Regions from separate parts of the Homo sapiens genome. Here region 1 is linked to region 2. Evidence: fine-mapped expression QTL. Tissue or cell type: testis. Region 2 holds a variant in brackets; the other region holds the start of a gene. All regions are shown on one strand. Distances are between the middles of the regions.

Region 1 (8,100 bases), 60 kb before region 2:
TCCAACTTTTTATTGTTAATAGACTATTTCTGTTAAACCTGAATTGTTCTTTGATTTCCCTGTGGATTTGTAAGGTGTTTTTCTTTTTTACGCATTTAGCATAATCAGCTGATTAAGAATGGAAAAGTTAGGTGCTTTAGACCAAATAAGGCACTGGGGCATGGGGTAGGGGTGGGCCACCAAGTATACTGAATTCTAAGGCTAGCTGTTCCTGACATATAGTAGGGCAAGACCATCTCCTGGAACCTTACTGTCTCAGATCAACTACTCTACCACTCTACTCTAAGATGTAGTGAGAGTAGCGGAGTCACTGACCTCTTTAAATCATAGGACAGGAACTGCATAAAGGTTCTTGAATTCTGCAGGACAGGAAATAACTGTATTACCTGCTTTGCAAGGTGGCTTTAAGAATCACTGAATCACTGTGGCCTCACTTGACCTAGTCATGGCAGGACAACTAGTGGTTAGTTACTAACTGGACTCTTGACTTTAGAACAAACATGAGGAGCCTCAAATACTTGTGTTCATTTGGGAAAGCTACCATTGATTTGGGAGGTACCACAAACCAGGTGCTATGTTAAGTGCTTCCTTGAATTCTCATTTTATTCTAAGAACCTTGTTTATAGAAGAGAAAACTGAGGTTTGGACGGGGTGAGTAACTTGCCTGTGGTTACACAGCTAGTAAGTGGTAGAGTCAGTGTGACTGACTCCCAGCTTGGAGTTCTTCCCAGAACTGGGTTATAGAGTCTTTCCGGCCGCTCTCCGCCACCTGCCTCATCCCAAGTAAAGCACATTGAGACAGCTGCAAAACAAACTGCTTCTAGTGCTCAGGAGTCTGTTTTTTATTAAACAAAACAAAACTGCCTGAATTAAGCAGAGGCTAGATTAGAGGTCATGTGCTTTCCTTCAGTGGTGAGGTTAGGTTCTACATTCCAAAATCAAAGAAGGGGTTTCAGGAATATCATCAGTTGCTTTGCAGATGGAGATAACTTAAAATAAAAGATACTGATCTTTTGAGAGATTTGGAAGGTGTGCTCTGCACCTTTAGGAGTTTTTAGGTATTTCCGTCACCTTCAAGAATACGTTCCTTTGAGCCTTTACTGCTATTTCTGAAGACTTCTTTATATCTTAAAAATATCCATGTATTACAGGCAAACTAAAGGTTCATGGGCATTTTAATAGCACTCTATTGTTTAGACACATGCCAGTTTTTTTAACATCATTTATTGCTAACATGAATTCAAAGCAAGTATACAGTTTATTGATACTAGAACAAATCAGGACATCAAGACATGATTGCCATCCTAAAATCTTAATCTTCAGAGAACAACATTTCCACCAGGTTGGCCTGAAGACACTCAGATTCTACCAGTTTTTGAGGCTGTAAGAGAAAAACAGTCAAATCTTCACTACTTCTATAAAACGTTATTAGGAGTGGAATGAGTTCTGCCTTGAATGACACTCATCTTTGAACACAGAAATTACGCAATTCAGAAACTATCATCTAGTTATAACAAGTTTTATGAAAGAATCAATATATTTGCTGTAAGATGAATCACTAACATACTTGGCTCAAGAGACTTAAACCCCAAATACCAGGAAGCTCCACAGACTAAAACAGGAGACAGCAAGCCCAGTGCCCTCTTCTTCCCCTCAACTCTTTAATTTAGGATCCCAGGGGCATGACTGAACTAGAAGAGATGCCCTTACTTTTTAACCAGAATTATGAATTAAACAGAAAACAACTGTTGATGCAAATGTTTTAAGGAATTATGAGTCAACCTACTTTCTGGTTTTTTAAGAGTGACTTAACATGAAAAAGACCTAATAGCTAGATATTTACATTATCAGTTTATTGGGATTGGCCATAGGAATGGACTTTCAGCAGCACTCTGAACAACAATGGAATTGAGATGAAATGTCAAGATCTTTTCAAATCTGGATCCACAGCAAGTTAAAAGAGTTCTGACAGTGAATTACAGGCCCAGCATATTTAAAGATACTTACTGTTCCATACTTAAGTAGTGTAGGCACTGCTGTTACTTTCAAGTTTTTTCTGAAGTCATTATTTGGATCTTTCCAACTATTCGAAAAGAAAAAGTGATCATGAAAAAAATTTACTTGGTTTATTACAGTTTGCTTAATATTTGACATAGTCCTACATTTAATTTTTTAGTAATCACTGTTCTTGCAAACACTTAAAAAACCTTGCGGACTATGGCTTAATCTACTAATTACCCTGTGCAAAGTTTCAAAGTGTGACTAAGATATAAAAGTAAAGCCAGCTAAGTTCTGGGCTTACACCAGACCAAATTCGTTGAATTACCCTTACTTAATTCAGGTGGGCATTTTAAATTTGTATTTAATAGCTTCTAATTGTTTAACTTGTCAGACATTACCTTGTAAGACAAACTGGGTAAGTAAGTCCCTGAGGCCCTTCCCGCCTAAGTATGCAATTTGTGCACGTCTGCGAGGTAGATTATACATTGCCACTTACTAAGGCTTTTCTCCTACTTGGCAGTAGATGAACACACATCCTTCACTAATGTGCTTCAGCCCCTCTCGTACGACTGGTTCAGCTTTAAAAAAAGTTGAGATAAAATAATCGCACGTCAACTCTACAATCAGGCACGTATAAACTGTGTTCTTTCCCCCTTCCCCCAGTCTTGGTAAGCACTCAGACTTTAACCTGCAGCTAACTGAAGAGGTCAACACAAGTCAGGTGTTCCCTTCTGGTCTTAGAGCCACGTTAAGGGTAAGGACCAAATCCCAGTCCCGATTTGCCCCTGCACCACCGCGCCCGTAACAATGGAAAGCACATGTATTTGCTGACCAACTCACGTATCCTGTAAGACACTAATGGTACTGGGGGAGTGAGAAGTTTTAAGGAACTAGATTCCAAGATCATCCGGGTAAGGTGGTAAAAGGAAGAGCGCTCTTGGCAGGGCGGGGTAGGATTTAATAGAAGGAGACTTGGGGACAGCTCAGATTGCTCCGCGGATGTCTGGAACCAAGACTCTGCCTCCGCTAAGCCCCCCTTCTGGCCGTAGGCTCGACCTTCCTGCCATTTCCATTGGACAGCAGCCCCCGAATCCCGGCCTCACCCTGCACGCAGTCGGGGCACCAGCTTTTCCCCCCGGCGTCCTTAGAACCCGTAAAGTAGGCGAAAATGGTCTTGCCATTGTGCTGTTCCACGGCCCGGTGGAACTCCTCGAAGCCGGACACGCTCACCTCCTCATAGCGGGCCATTGGCACGACGTGCAGCCGCTACTGGAGGAGTGCACGTCCGGTCGCCGCGGTTGGGTCCCGCGTAGGCGGGGCGAGGCTGTTTCCGGGTGGGCAAGAGAGGGCGGAGCCTGCGGAAGCCAGCGCCGCTAAAGACTACGGGAGCCTCTGACGACCACAATCCATCCGCATGGCTTTTTGCTCTAGTTCCTCAGATCTTTCTGCGCTAGCTGCACTCCCAAGCCCAGGCTTAGATCTACCCTAATCTAGTCCCAGCCCCGACCTCATGGACACTGGCTGCAAAACTTACCGCCTTGCAACACCTGGATCCTTAAATAGTTCAGGGCCTCAAAGGCTCCCAAGCCGCCCTGCGCCTGTTGCTATGGCGACTGGGCAGGCGGCCGGAAGCGCGGCCTTGTTGGGGGCCCCCGTTGCCCGCCTCCCAGTAGCCGCGCCTCACCCTAGGCCAGGTGGGCTCGGGCCGGGGCTGGGGGGGATTCTGGGAAGCCGCATAGAGTCATGGACTTGGGGGAGAGGAGATCTGACTCGGAAAGCCTTTGTTGCTTTGTCCCCCCAGTTACCTTTTCTGCCGTCTAGGCTTTACGGGGGCCTGGGACTGGGGGCGGGTTCCCGAGACTGGGCGGGGGTGGGATGGGTGAGGGGCTCGGAGGGAGAAAGGCTGCAAGGCCGGAGCGGAGTGTGTGAGTGCGTGTGTGGAGCAGCTTAGGGAGCGAGGTGCTAAGACATCCCCCAGGGCCGCGGTAGGGAGGAAGGGAACTGCCCTGGAGCTATGAGCCGGGAGACTCGCCGTGGGGCCTTGCCCAGGCTGCGCCGGGGAGAGCAGGCGGCTAAGATGCCGGGTCGCTGCGTGGGGCCCAGCAGGTCGGGGCGGGGGGTTCGGCGGCCGTGGGGGAAGAGACGGGGCGCAGGGACGTCCCGAGGCCGTGGAGCAAGGCGCCGGGCGAAGCCCTCGGAGTGGGAGACGCGCTGTGTGAGTGCAGAAAGGCCACAGGGCCGTCAGCGGCCATGGGGGACGAGACAAGCGGCGGAGACAGCCGACGCCGCCGGGGCGAATGAGGCTTTGGGAGCTCCTGGGACCCCAGGCTCCATCGAGGCTGCAAGGGACCCTGGGGCTGTGTGGGTGAACGGGGCTGTGGGGGAGCCCGAGGTGGTGGGGCTTGCCGGGGCTGTGTGGGTGACCGGGTCTGGGGAGGAGGAGACCGAAGATAGAAGTCCCCGGGGCTGCGAGAGAAAAGGTCGCCCGGGATCTCTGGGCCATGAGAGCATTCTGCACCTGTGGCTGAAGGTGCAGGCTATGAGGGCCGCCTCGGGATGTGGGGAAGGAAGTAGAGTCGAGCTCCATCCCGTGCCTGCAGGAGAGGGACCTGTCGAAAGGGGTGTTCCTGGCCGAGCTTCCTGGGTAGAGACAAGCCGCGGCGGTCTTACAGGGCCCTGGGTGAAGGAACAGGCAAGGGGGATCCCTCGGGCCCCCTCAGGGCCCACAGCTCTGGGCTTAGGGGCAGCTTACGAGAGAGCCTTAGGCTTCTGTGGACAGGGACAGGCTGGGAGGGTGCCTCCTGCGAGTGTGCCTGGGGCTTTGGCGTCAAGTTCTGAAATGGCCCCGCACCTGTGGAGGGGAGAAGCTGTGGGGGTTCCTGAGACTGGGGAGGAGATAGGCTATGGGTTTGTCTCAGGCCCTTGTGAAAAAGAACAGACTATGGGCGAGCCTGGGACCGTGGGGTGGACTGGGGCTGTGGGAGCGCCCAGAGCCATGGAGGGAGAGCTCGGCTGTGGCGGTGCTGCAGGTCTGTGGGGGAGAGGACAGTCCCCGCAGATTCCTGGGGCTCTGACACATGAAGCAGTCTGTGGGGCCACCCCTGGCGTATGGGGGAGGGGACAGGCTGTGGGGGTGTCCGATGCTGTGGAGGAGGAGCCTACTTCTGTGGGTGCCGCAGGTGTGTGTTACAGGAGACAGGCTGTGGAGGAGACAGACTCTGTGGGTATGCCCGGCCCGTGGGGCACAGGATACTCTGTTGGGGTGCCCTGTGCTGCTGAAGAGGAAACTAGATGTGGAGGTGACCCAGGGTTCAGGGAAAGGGGACAGCCTGTGTGGGTGGAGACAGGCTCTGGGGGTGATCCAGGGTCACGGGGAGCTGCGCAGACTGCAGAGTCATCATGTCCTGGGGAGCAGGCAGCAGGTTCTGGGGGTGCCCCAGGCCTGTGGGGGATACAACAGGCTACAGGGGTACCCAGGGCCTTGGGGAAGGACACGGGCTGTGTGAGTGTCCCAGGGCTGTGGGGAGCGGGACAGATGGTAAGGGTGCCCCAGGCTGTGGTGGTACCTGGAGCCCTGGGAGAAGAGCTGAGCCACAGCGGGGGCCTGGGCCTGTGGGACGGACAGCAAGCTCTTGGGGGGCCCCCAGCCGAGGCAGTGCCTGGGCTTGGAGAGGAGACCTGTAGTGGGAATGTTCTGAGCCCGTGGGAAAGGAGGCAGGCTGTGGGGGAGCCAGAGAGTCTGGGGCCTCCAGCTTTAGGGGTCCCTGGGTCAGTGGATCAGGAGGCTGGCTGTGGAGATGTTGCATGTCAGTGTGGGAGGAGGCAGGCTGTGGGGGTGTCTGAGACGGTGGGCATACCCAGGGCAGCAGATGTGCCCCGGCAGGGGTGTGCCGCAGCAGGGGTCCTCATGGCAATGGGTGTGCCCGGCTCTGGAAAGGTGCCTGCCAGAGTGCCTGCTGCTGTGTGGGCGTCTGGTCCTGTGTGTCAGGAAGGCAGCTCTAGAGACATTTTGAACCTGTGGGAAAGGACTCGGGCTGCCAGAATATCTGTGGCTTCGGGGGGACCCGTGGCTCGGGAGGAGCTGTGGTCTGGCGGGGAGGAATCCGTGGCTTCAGGGGGACCCGTGGCTCAGGAGGAGCTGTGGTCAGGCGGGGAGGAATCCGTGGCTTCAGGGGGACACGTGGCTCGGGAGAAGCTGTGGTCTGGCGGGGAGGATTGTGGTTCTGGGGCCTTCCCGGGCCCATGGGGGAGGAGACAGACTATTGGGGTTCCTGTGGTGCCTGAGGGGCCTGGGCTTGGGGGGGAGACTGACTCTGGGGGTATCCCAAGACCCTGGGGACAGAGACAGAGGGTCAGGGCTCCTGTGGCCACCGAAGTCCTTCTGGCTCCTAGGGTGCCTGGTTCTGTGGAGCTGGAGCCTGGTGATGGAGGCTTTTCAGGCTTGTCAGGGAGGCAGCAAACTGCAGGAATGCCTGGCACTGTGGGGCTGTCTGCAGCTAGTGGGGTGCCCGTGGCTCCCAGGGTGCCTAGGCCTGTGCAAGAGGAAACTGGCTCAGAATTGTGGGGTGAAAGAGAGACAGTGGGCGGACCTGCAGATGCCAAGGGTCCCACAAGGATGGAGGTGCCCACCTCGACCAGGATGCCTGGGCCCATGGCGGAGAAGACTGGCTCTGGGGGTGTCTCAGGTTTGTTGGGAGGCAGACAGACTACAGGAGTGTCCATGGCTGTGGGGCTGCTGGGGTCTGTGGGGGAGGGGACCATCTTTGAGCATGTCTCTGGCCTGTCTGGAAGAAGGCAGACTGCTGGGAGGCCTGTGGCTGCTAGAGGTTCCATGGCCGTGGGAGTGCCCACAGCTCCCGGGCTTCCAGGGCCAATGGTAGGGGATACGGGCTCTGGGGATGACGGCTCAGGCATATGGGGAAGGAGACTGGCCACTGAGGGGCCCACAGCTGCCAGGGTTCCTGGACCTGTGGAGGGGGAGACAGGCTCTGAAGGTGTCTCAGGCCTGTGGAGAAGGAGACACGGTGGAGCCATTCCCGAGGCCGGGAGGGTGCCTCTGCCTCTGGGGGTGCTTGCAGCTGTAGGAGCTCCCATGGCAGGGCGTGCGCCTGCTGCGGTGTGGGTGACTGGGTCCTCAGGAGCAGAAGCGGACGTGGGTGTCTCAGGTCTGACCGTGCTGAGGAGACAGTCCACAGGGGGAGTGGGGGCTTCAGAGGATGAGACAGGAGGTGGGAATATTTTGGGACTGGCCGGGGGCAGCCAGGCTGTGGGGACATCTCACACCTGTGTGCCTGGGGCCAGGTTATGGAGCTGTCCAAGGTCTTTGGGGGAAGAAACAGCCTATGAGAATGCTCTAGGCATGTCAGGGACAAGAACAGCTGTGGGGGTACCCTCAGTTTCAAGGGAGGAAATAGGCCTTGGCCATTTCAGAGACCACCTACAGCCAAGTGGGAGGAGGCTGGCTGGAGGAGTGTCTGCAGTCAGAGTGAGAGGGAGCAATTTGGGAGAGAGTTATGTGGGGGAGGCTAGATTGAGGGGGGCGTTCCAGTAGTGTGTGTAGGGAAGAAGTTGGGGCTGTGTGGGAGGGAACAGGTTCGGGGTAGGTTTGTCATGGGTTGCGGATGAAGGCACTGGCTGTAAGGGCATCTCAGCATGGGGGAGAGAGGGTTTTCGTGGAGATGCCCCAGGGTATGTAGAGGGACAAATTGGGACGTTTCCTGGAGCAGTGGGAAAGGGCCAGATTGCAAGGAGAGTCCCAGAACTTTGTACAGGGGGACAGTTTAGGGGTGGGTGTCCCTGGACTTTGTGCGTGTGTGTGTATGTGTGTGTGTAGCATCACTTGAGGCATGCTGGAACTGTGGGGATCACCTAGTTTTTTTCTAGTGGAGAATGGACTATTTGGCCCTTGGCACCTAGAAGCAGCCAGGAGGGAAGTACTGACCATTTAAAAGTGGCAGATCTCCGGGCCCCATTTCTGCAGCCTTCATTCTGCAACTCCAGCCACCCACCTGTGCCAACGTCAAGCCAGTTGGGATTGCCTTGCTCATGTGCCTCCTCCCATCTGCTTTTTTCATGTGTGCTACAGCCTTAGAAATAAGG
Region 2 (8,096 bases):
GAGGAAAATAACATCATCTTAGAAATCAATTTATTTCTACGACTGTTGAATACATTGTCTAGTATATGGTGAAAAATAACCAGGCAACAGAGGGACAAGACAATACCAAGAACAGACCTACGGCAGATACAAACATTAGAGCTATCAGACACAGACATTAAAATAACTGTGCCTAGTGCATTCATAGAAATAAAAGACATGAATTAGAACTTTGGCATAGAACTGGGAACTAAACAAAATCCAAATGGACATTCTAGAATGAAAGATAAAGTTTCTGAAATGAAGAATTCATTGGTTGGGCTCAATAGCAAATTAGACACAACAGAAGAAAATATTAGAGACTTGGAACATAGGACAGAAGAAAATATCCAGAGTGATTCCCGGAGACACACAAAAAAAGACGAAAAGTGAAGAAGAGAGGGAAAGGGACATAGAGGAGGTAAGAAGGTCTAACGTGTTGTTGGAATCTCAGGTCAGGAGAGAGAGAAAACGAGTCACAAACAACATCCCAAGAGATAATGGCCATCACTTCCCCAGAGTAGCAAAAGACATCAAGCCGTAGATTCAAGAAGCTCCAAAAACCCCAAGCAAGGAAAATAAAAAGAAATCCATACTCAATATTGCTGAAAAATCACAGATAGAGAAAATCTTAAAATCGGCTGGAGGAAGAAAAATCAAGATAAACAAAAACAGTGGAAACTGGAAGACCTGGCATCTTTTAAAATTCCAAACGAAAAGAACTACCAGTCTGGAGTTCTAAGCCCAGTGAAAGATACATCAAAAGGCAAGGTGAGAAAAGAGTTTCTTAACAAAGCTGAATTAGCAGTAGACCTTCACTGTAGGAAATATTAAAAAGGGTATTTTGGGGGAAGAAAGAAAACAGTCACAGATGGAAGGTCAGAAATATAGGGAGGCATGAATTTTAAAAATAGGTAAATAGGTAGGTTAAAGTGAATATTGGCTGTATGAAACAATACTGATGTTTTATGGATGCGTGTGTATGTGTACTCACACGTTTAAAATATACAGTAACAATAGTATGTAAGAATATAAGTCAGGAAGGGAATAGAGTTCGTATTCTAAGGTTCTTGCATTGTATGGGAAAAAAGGTAAGAATATCAATTAATGTTAGACGTCAAGTCATGGATACTTGTTGTAATCCAGGGTGGCCACTTAAAGAATCATAAAAGTGTGTGTAATGTCCAAGTCAATAGAGAAGAGCAAATGTAGTTTAAAAATTACAAAATCTAAAGGAAACCAAGAAAGAAGAGAGAACAAAGAGACAAATATAGAAAATGCCTATTATTTTAGAAGCATAAACTCAAATCAGAATAACATTAAATGAAAAAGGACCTTACATGCCAATTAAAAGACAAAAGATTGTCAGATTAGCGAAAAAACAAAAACTGGGTGGGAATGGGGTAGAAGGAATAGGAGAGGGGGAGTGAAACTTATCTGCATTTACCATTTTTGTGTAACTCTGACTTTTGAAACCATGTTAATGTTTCTTATACATCCCCTTAGTCAACAGGGATGGGGCGGGGGCCTTAAGTCGAATACAAACAGAAACATGAACTTAACTGTATTTCAAATAAATAATATAATCATATTAACGGCATGAAGCCTAAATAACTTTTGAACACAGTATGTTGACTCTTTACCTCTGGCTAAAGACAAAAAGAACTGTAAACACATAACTGGATTCTAGTTTGTAGGTTTCTTTTATACAGTGACATGGGTTAACAGTTGAAAACTATTTTCTCTATATTTTAGGATTGGTCAAATAAGTAAGTACATTGTGAATAATGGGAGCAAGGTTTCTAGGGGAAGGCTGGGATGAATATATGGTTTTTTATAGACGTAGAAATAGATACAGGGTGTTTCTTAGTTTGTCTGCTGAGAAGGCCCAGAAGCAGAGGTGCCAGTAGCAGTGAGCACACCCAGTACCCACATCTTGGTTTCTAAATACCGTTCTCCATGAAGAGGCACCAGATGAAGAGGCACGAGGGCTTCTTGGAAGAATGGCTGACTATAAGCCTGGGGCTGGAAAAATGTAAGATAAGCCTCAGACATACTGTGCTAGAAAGGAAGTGCTCAAAGAAAGATGGGGACATGTCGAGAGTTCACAGGAGTTCCCAAGAGGCACCTACGGGCCAAATCCAGGACATTTTCAAGCATCGAAATATGTAATAATAGTAATGGATTACAAACTATACAATAAAATAAAAATCTATAAGGCCAAACTGATAGGAATGAATACATAAGTAAAAGACAAGGGAAAGCTTTCATTACAGTAGAATGCCAGCTATTAAATGGAGAAGAAGTGATGGAAGTAGAAAATCCGTGTTTGGCAACCCTGTAATAATTGATTTAGGCGAATTTCATGAGAAACAGGAGTTTACATAGTCTCAAAGTATCTCCCTCCACTATACCTATTAATTACAAAGGGGAAAACAGTAACTTTACAAGGGAGAAACCTGGCAGACATCACCGTAACCCAGTGATGCAAAATTAACTGACATCATTAATGGATATCAAATAGATATCATGGTGCACTGAAGGGACACACTATCCTTCTGTGGCATCTCTTTCAAAACCGTATGTCCTGAATCTGATCATAAGGAAAAAACCCAAATTGAGGGATATTCTCCCCACCCCCCCAAAAAAAGGCTTTTATTCTTTAAAAAATGTTAAGGTCATGAGAGGCAAAGAAAGACTGAAGGACTATTAGATTACAGTAGACTAAAGAGCTGTGACAACAAAATGCGACATGGAATCCCAGACTGGAACCTTGGACTAGCAAAAAATTTCTTTTGAAGGAAATTATTTGGATGGTTGGCAAAATTTGAATAAGGCCTGTAGATAGATAGGCCTGTAGAATAGATACTAGTTTTGTATCAATGTTAATTTTATAATTGTTATAATTGTACCATAGTTATTTAAGAGAATGTCCTTGTTTGTAGGGCTACTTGGGAGATACGAAGCTTGCGCCGTTCAGAAAATGAAGGTGTGTGTGTGTGTGTGTGTGTGTGTGTGTGTACAGAGGAGCACCCGTGCAGAGTCCCCTAGTGTCCTCCCCCGTCTCCTACAGAGAAGGCACACCCCTTCCTCCGTCGGCCGGTCAGGCAGCTGTTAGAGGTGGGGCTAGGTTGCAGCTGGTTAGTTTCTGGTCGCCTCTGGTTTCAAACACATTGAGGATGAAGTCCATCCTGTGTATGTTTTAGGCCTGTCCCTCTAGCAGGACTTTGGGATCTAAGCACCACCATCCTTCTGTCTAGGAGAGCAGGGCCTCTCACCTTGTTTTTCTTCTTCAAAAGTATCTTGGCCGGGCACAGTGGCTCATGCCTGTAAT[C/A]CCAGCACTTTGGGAGGCCAAGGCAGGCGGATCACGAGGTCAGGAGATTGAGACCATCCTGGCTAACATGGTGAAACCCCATCTCTACTAAAAAAATACAAAAAATTAGCCAGGCGTGGTGGCGGGCTCCTGTAGTCCCAGCTACTCAGGAGGCTGAGGCAGGAGAATGGTGTGAACCCGGGAGGCGGAGCTTGCAGTGAGCCGAGATGGTGCCACTGCACTCCAGCCTGGGCAACAGAGCGAGACTCCGTCTCAAAAAAAAAAAAAAAAGTATCTTGGCTGTTCTTGGCCTTCTGAATTTCCATTTAGATTTCAGAATTGACTTGTTAATTTCCACAGCTGAGTAAAAGAATGGCTCCCATATATGGCTGTACATACCTTTATTTTATTTTATTTATTTTGAGACGGAATCTCACTCTGTTGCCCAGGCTGGAGTGCAGTGGTGTGATCTCTGCTCACTGCAATCTCCACCTCCCAGGTTCAAGCGATTCTCCTGCCTCAGCCTCCTGAGTAACAGGGTTTATAGGTGTGCATGCCACCACGCCCGGCTAATTTTATGTATTTTTAGTAGAGACCGGGTTTCACCATGTTGGCCAGGCTGGTCTCAAACTCCTGACCTCAGGTGATCTGTCCATCTTGGCCTCCCAAAGTGCTGGGATGACAGGTGTGAGCCACCGCGCCTGGCCTTGTACATACCTTTAGTTGTGTTGTTTGTCTTCCAGCTTTTCAGAAGAGCTGGTAGATGAAGCTCTGGGTGCTGTGGCTGCTGAACTTCAGGATATGTGCGAAGATTATGCAGAAGCTGTGTTCACCTCAGAATTCTTAGAGGCTGCTACATAAAGGCTCTCTGAGGCGAGGCCATTTGTGTCACACTGGAGAAGGGATGGCACCACCCTTTGTTTTGGCCCACAGGAAATTTTCATCCTCAGCTGTCCATCCAGGCCCAGAAGGTGCTGCCCACTGAAAGGAAGGCAGTGCCGGGGAGGTCATCCTCACTTTGCATTTTCTTTTGTCATGGCAATGGTTCTGGAAATGTATGATGCAATGTATCACACTTATCAGTGCCCAGGCAACACAACTTGATTATGGCAATATTTTCAGAATGTGTACTTTTCCTATTGAAATACCATGTTCATTCCTCTGGCTCAGTTTGGTGATGAAAATGTTTTGAAAGATAATCGATACGTATATTTCACACAAGGATTCAGGTTGCTGTTGAACCCTTGCTGGCATTGATACCAACACAAGTGCGGCTACTAGCTGGTCCCATCACGGGGCCCCTGTTTTGCATCTTTGGCGATTTCCTGTCAGGACCTCTGGCCCTACTAGGCTGTAGACTCAGGGAGAGCACAGTCTGGCTGTGCTGCCAAACCTCTCCTCTGCTGCAGTTTATTCCAAACAGGAGCCCCCTGGCTGTCAGTGCACAATAATAGACACACATTTCTTCAACGTTCCATTCCTAGGTGATTTTCACATTTTTAGTTCCTCAGCATATTTTATTGCTGTGTGTTGACACAATCTGGTATAAAAAACTTTCTCTGGATTCAGAGGAAGTTTGAGGAATCAGGAGAGGACCAGGCCTTCTCCTGTGCCTGGGTGAAGGTACAGACCTCGCTGTGTCTCCGATGAGGTCAGAAGTGTCTCTATTTCATACCACAAAGGAACCCAAGTGGGAGTAGGGAACAGATGGATGGCGCGAAGACCTCTGTGTCTCCCCAGAGAAAGGAAGAAACTTAAGAACCATCATAGCCTGGTCCTCCAACATCTTACAGATCATGTTTTCCAAGAGAAAAGCCTGTGTTTTCAGAAACTCTGAATTCAGAAAAAGAAACGGAATGTGCGTAAGAATCAGGCCACTGCCTGGAAAGACTTTCTCTCAATTCGTAGCCTGAGGCTCAGTGAAGGAAACATGCAGAAAGAATGCCTGAGACGCCCCCAGGGAATAAGGGAACTCTTTATAACCTGTCCAGTGCCGTCATCTGGGATTTTTCTCTGAAGTACAAGAATTTCAGGTGATTTAAGCTGCTTGATCACACTTATTTGTGCAAAATTGATTTTCATTTAATGTTAATGTTTTCCTGCTTAATTTTATATAACTTCAGAATGTAAAGAGCTTCAAGGTAAATTACAGGGTGTTTAACCTGGGGAGTTAAATGTGTACACTTGAATTAATAGGAGCACCGGTTGTTGCTAGTATAAAGTAATTTGTGTGGCAGTTTGTACTGTGCTGAGTTTTTAAAATAAACCCAATATTTTAAAGTATGTGCCTATTTTAAATAACTTACATCTCCTTTTTTTCCCACAGGCAAAGTGAAATGTGATTTACAGAAACCACTGAGAATACTTTTATATGTGATATGACTATAGTGGATTATTTGCCACCCCTTCCCCCCGAGAAAAAAATTAGTGACAATAAAAGCTAACATTTATTGAGCACCTACTAGAGCATTGCTCTCCGTGCTTGCCATGTAGTAACTTATTTAATCCTCACCTCATCTCTGTGAGGTGGAGAGCATCATTGTTCCCATTGTATAGATGAATAAAACGAGGCACAGGAGGAGATAATTTGACCAAACAAACTTGGAGTTTACCTGAGCTCATCTTCCTGCCTTTCCCTATCCCCACTCGGCGTGTGCTGGGGCAGTCCCATTCTCACACTTCCTGTTGCAGCTTGTGTCCTGAAAGGCCGAGCCCAGGCTTTGCCTTGTTTCAGGATCTTCCCACTCTCTCCTGCTCCTCCCACCAGGTGGATCTGCCTTTCTCTGACTCATGTGGGTGGAGCTTCAACCAGCCCCAGTGTCCAGGTGTCAACTTTATATCCCTGGCCCATCGCAAACATCCACAGCCAGAGCATTCTCCAAAGACACAAAAATATACTGCAAGAAATAAACATTTTTCTTTGCAAATGGAAGCTAAATCCTTAGAATATAAAAGTTCCCGTTTATCGCCTCGCAGCCAGCCCAGACATCTAGAATTTTTTGTTCTTCATGAACAAGGGCTGACCGTACATCATTCTGTAATTCCCTTCAGCTTTCTCACGAACTATTCGTGTACTATTTCAGAAGCAGAAACACACGAGTTCAGTGTTTTTGTGTTGCATACGCCGTCCCCAGTGTACAGAGACATGAAAATGCACTCCGAGCGCTCCACCGGCACAGCTTGGTCACACGGGATTTCTGTCTGTTTCTGTGCTTACCTCTAGTCTGTTTAGCTCCTTGAGGGCAGGGACCCTGCCTAGCTTGTAGTTGGTGCTCAGTAAATTCTTCTGAATTAATGAAAGGTGAAGGGCAGGCTGATTGACTTTATACGGGGGGGTCTGTCACATCTCATATAGTCCACAGAAATCTATGATGTCCTTTTGTGACCCCGAGATAGAATGCCATTTGAGAACTATAATTCCATCTTGGAGGTACTGCTGCCATTGCAATTCCAGCTCAGATGGCAAGAACTTGCTTCCTTCCTCCTAGAGCAGGGCATGGGCCTCAGCCTCATGCTGCTCCTGACCTTGAGCGAGCCTTGGTCAGGGTGCTCCTGGGGACTAAGCTGGGGCGGCCCAGGGACTGGAGAAGAAGACAGAAGGATGTGCATGGGAGCCCCTTGCCTCTTGTGTTCTGTTACTATTTCAGCACTGTGGTCCCTTCTCCCTCTGCCCGCCGGAGCTGGGGTTTGGAGGAGAGATGGTGAGGAGAGAAGCGCTTTCCTCACTCCACTTCCTCCCTGGGCTCACGGTTCCTGCTTTCCTGAAGGTGGTCCGAGTGTGTTTGTGTGTGTGTGTGTTGGGGGAGTGGGGGAGGTGGAGGCATGAACTGCACTGTGGCCAGTGGGTCTGAAAGGCAGAAGGAAGGGCCTGAGGGAAGCCCCAGGGCCAACAGCAAGAGGAAGGGTCCAAGTCAGAAAGTCCCCTGTGCTCTCTGTGACAGTGTAGGTTTCCATCACGCTTCTGTGTTTCTGAGAGGAGCTCTCTTTATTTTAGCAACGTGAGACAGTAGTGAGAATTCCCTGCAGAGCCTGTAAATTCAGGGGTGTCCACATCATCATGGGCTTATGATCACCACAGAAGTGACCTTTGGGAGGGGCCAGCCTGTGAAAGGGCTCCTGGTTCTCTGGGCTCTTGAAGAGCAGCAGAAGGGCAGTGGCCTTGCCCCACTGAGCTCCATTAGTTCAGGAGCCGAGATCTCAGATCTGTTTCCACACTGGCATGTTGACTGAGTCCAATAACGTGGGCCTGGATTGGAGGGGCTTCCACCTGACATCCTGTGTACTTCCTATCAGTCCTCAGTAAGGGCCCCAGGAAATCCCAGATAGGGACCCTGGGCTGGTTGTCAGGCCCAAGTGAACTCAGGCAACAGACCCAGCAGGATCATTCCCCGACCTGGAGTGCACAGCTGGCTTCCGGAGTCAGGGCTCCCCTCCCGGTTCAGCTCCAGTGCTGGGTTCCCCTCTTGCCAGCCTGTCCAGGACCTTGCTCCACCTTCCCCAGTCTTCTCCCCAAGCCTGCACCTGCCTTCCCAGATGACCCCTTTATCCTTTATTTGCTGCTTTCCCTAGAGTCCCCTTGGCTGTTCTTGACCTCATATACCTGGAAATCCTTTCCTTGAACCAGACCTGCAGGCTTTTACTATTTTCCCTGGCTCGCTTTCCATCCATCCAACTGGACTTCTGCCTGTGGCCTGGAGTTAGGTCCATCCGTTCCCACCACTAAGGCTGCCTTCCAGCCCCCCACCTTGTCACAGCTGGCTACTCC

Which allele goes with the higher level. Alleles are on the strand shown, and positions count from the first base shown. SD is a standard deviation of normalised expression in the study named.
In carriers of allele A in region 2, the expression in testis of the gene that starts at base 3,621 in region 1 tends to be higher than with C alone (small effect, 0.33 SD a copy in GTEx).

What was found. PIP is the estimated chance that this variant, and not a neighbour inherited with it, causes the effect.
Region 1: it holds the start of KIAA0753, and the variant in region 2 is fine-mapped to the expression of KIAA0753 in testis (GTEx, PIP 0.99).

The regions. Positions count from the first base shown.
Region 1 is chr17:6,636,232-6,644,331 of GRCh38, reverse strand. KIAA0753 reads left to right here and starts at 3,621. Exons shown (of 19, transcript NM_014804.3): 1 at 3,621-3,695. It overlaps TXNDC17 (thioredoxin domain containing 17), which reads right to left and starts at 3,272. Exons shown (of 4, transcript NM_032731.4): 1 at 3,105-3,272; 2 at 2,498-2,579; 3 at 2,008-2,083; 4 at 1-1,381. The coding sequence starts at 3,249. The coding sequence ends at 1,313. MED31 (mediator complex subunit 31) reads left to right here. Exons shown (of 4, transcript NM_016060.3): 4 at 1-1,021. LOC122526780 reads left to right here and starts at 4,016. Exons shown (of 1, transcript NM_001396008.1): 1 at 4,016-7,552. The coding sequence starts at 4,016. The coding sequence ends at 7,552. RefSeq lists enhancers at 2,553-2,612, 2,813-3,082, 3,213-4,094, 4,993-5,062, 6,007-6,788 and 1 more.
Region 2 is chr17:6,575,843-6,583,938 of GRCh38, reverse strand. KIAA0753 reads left to right here. Exons shown (of 19, transcript NM_014804.3): 19 at 4,075-5,792. The coding sequence ends at 4,192. Among named protein-coding and RNA genes, the nearest start is that of PITPNM3, 23 kb to the right of the region's middle. The variant C/A (reference allele first, on the strand shown) is at 3,353.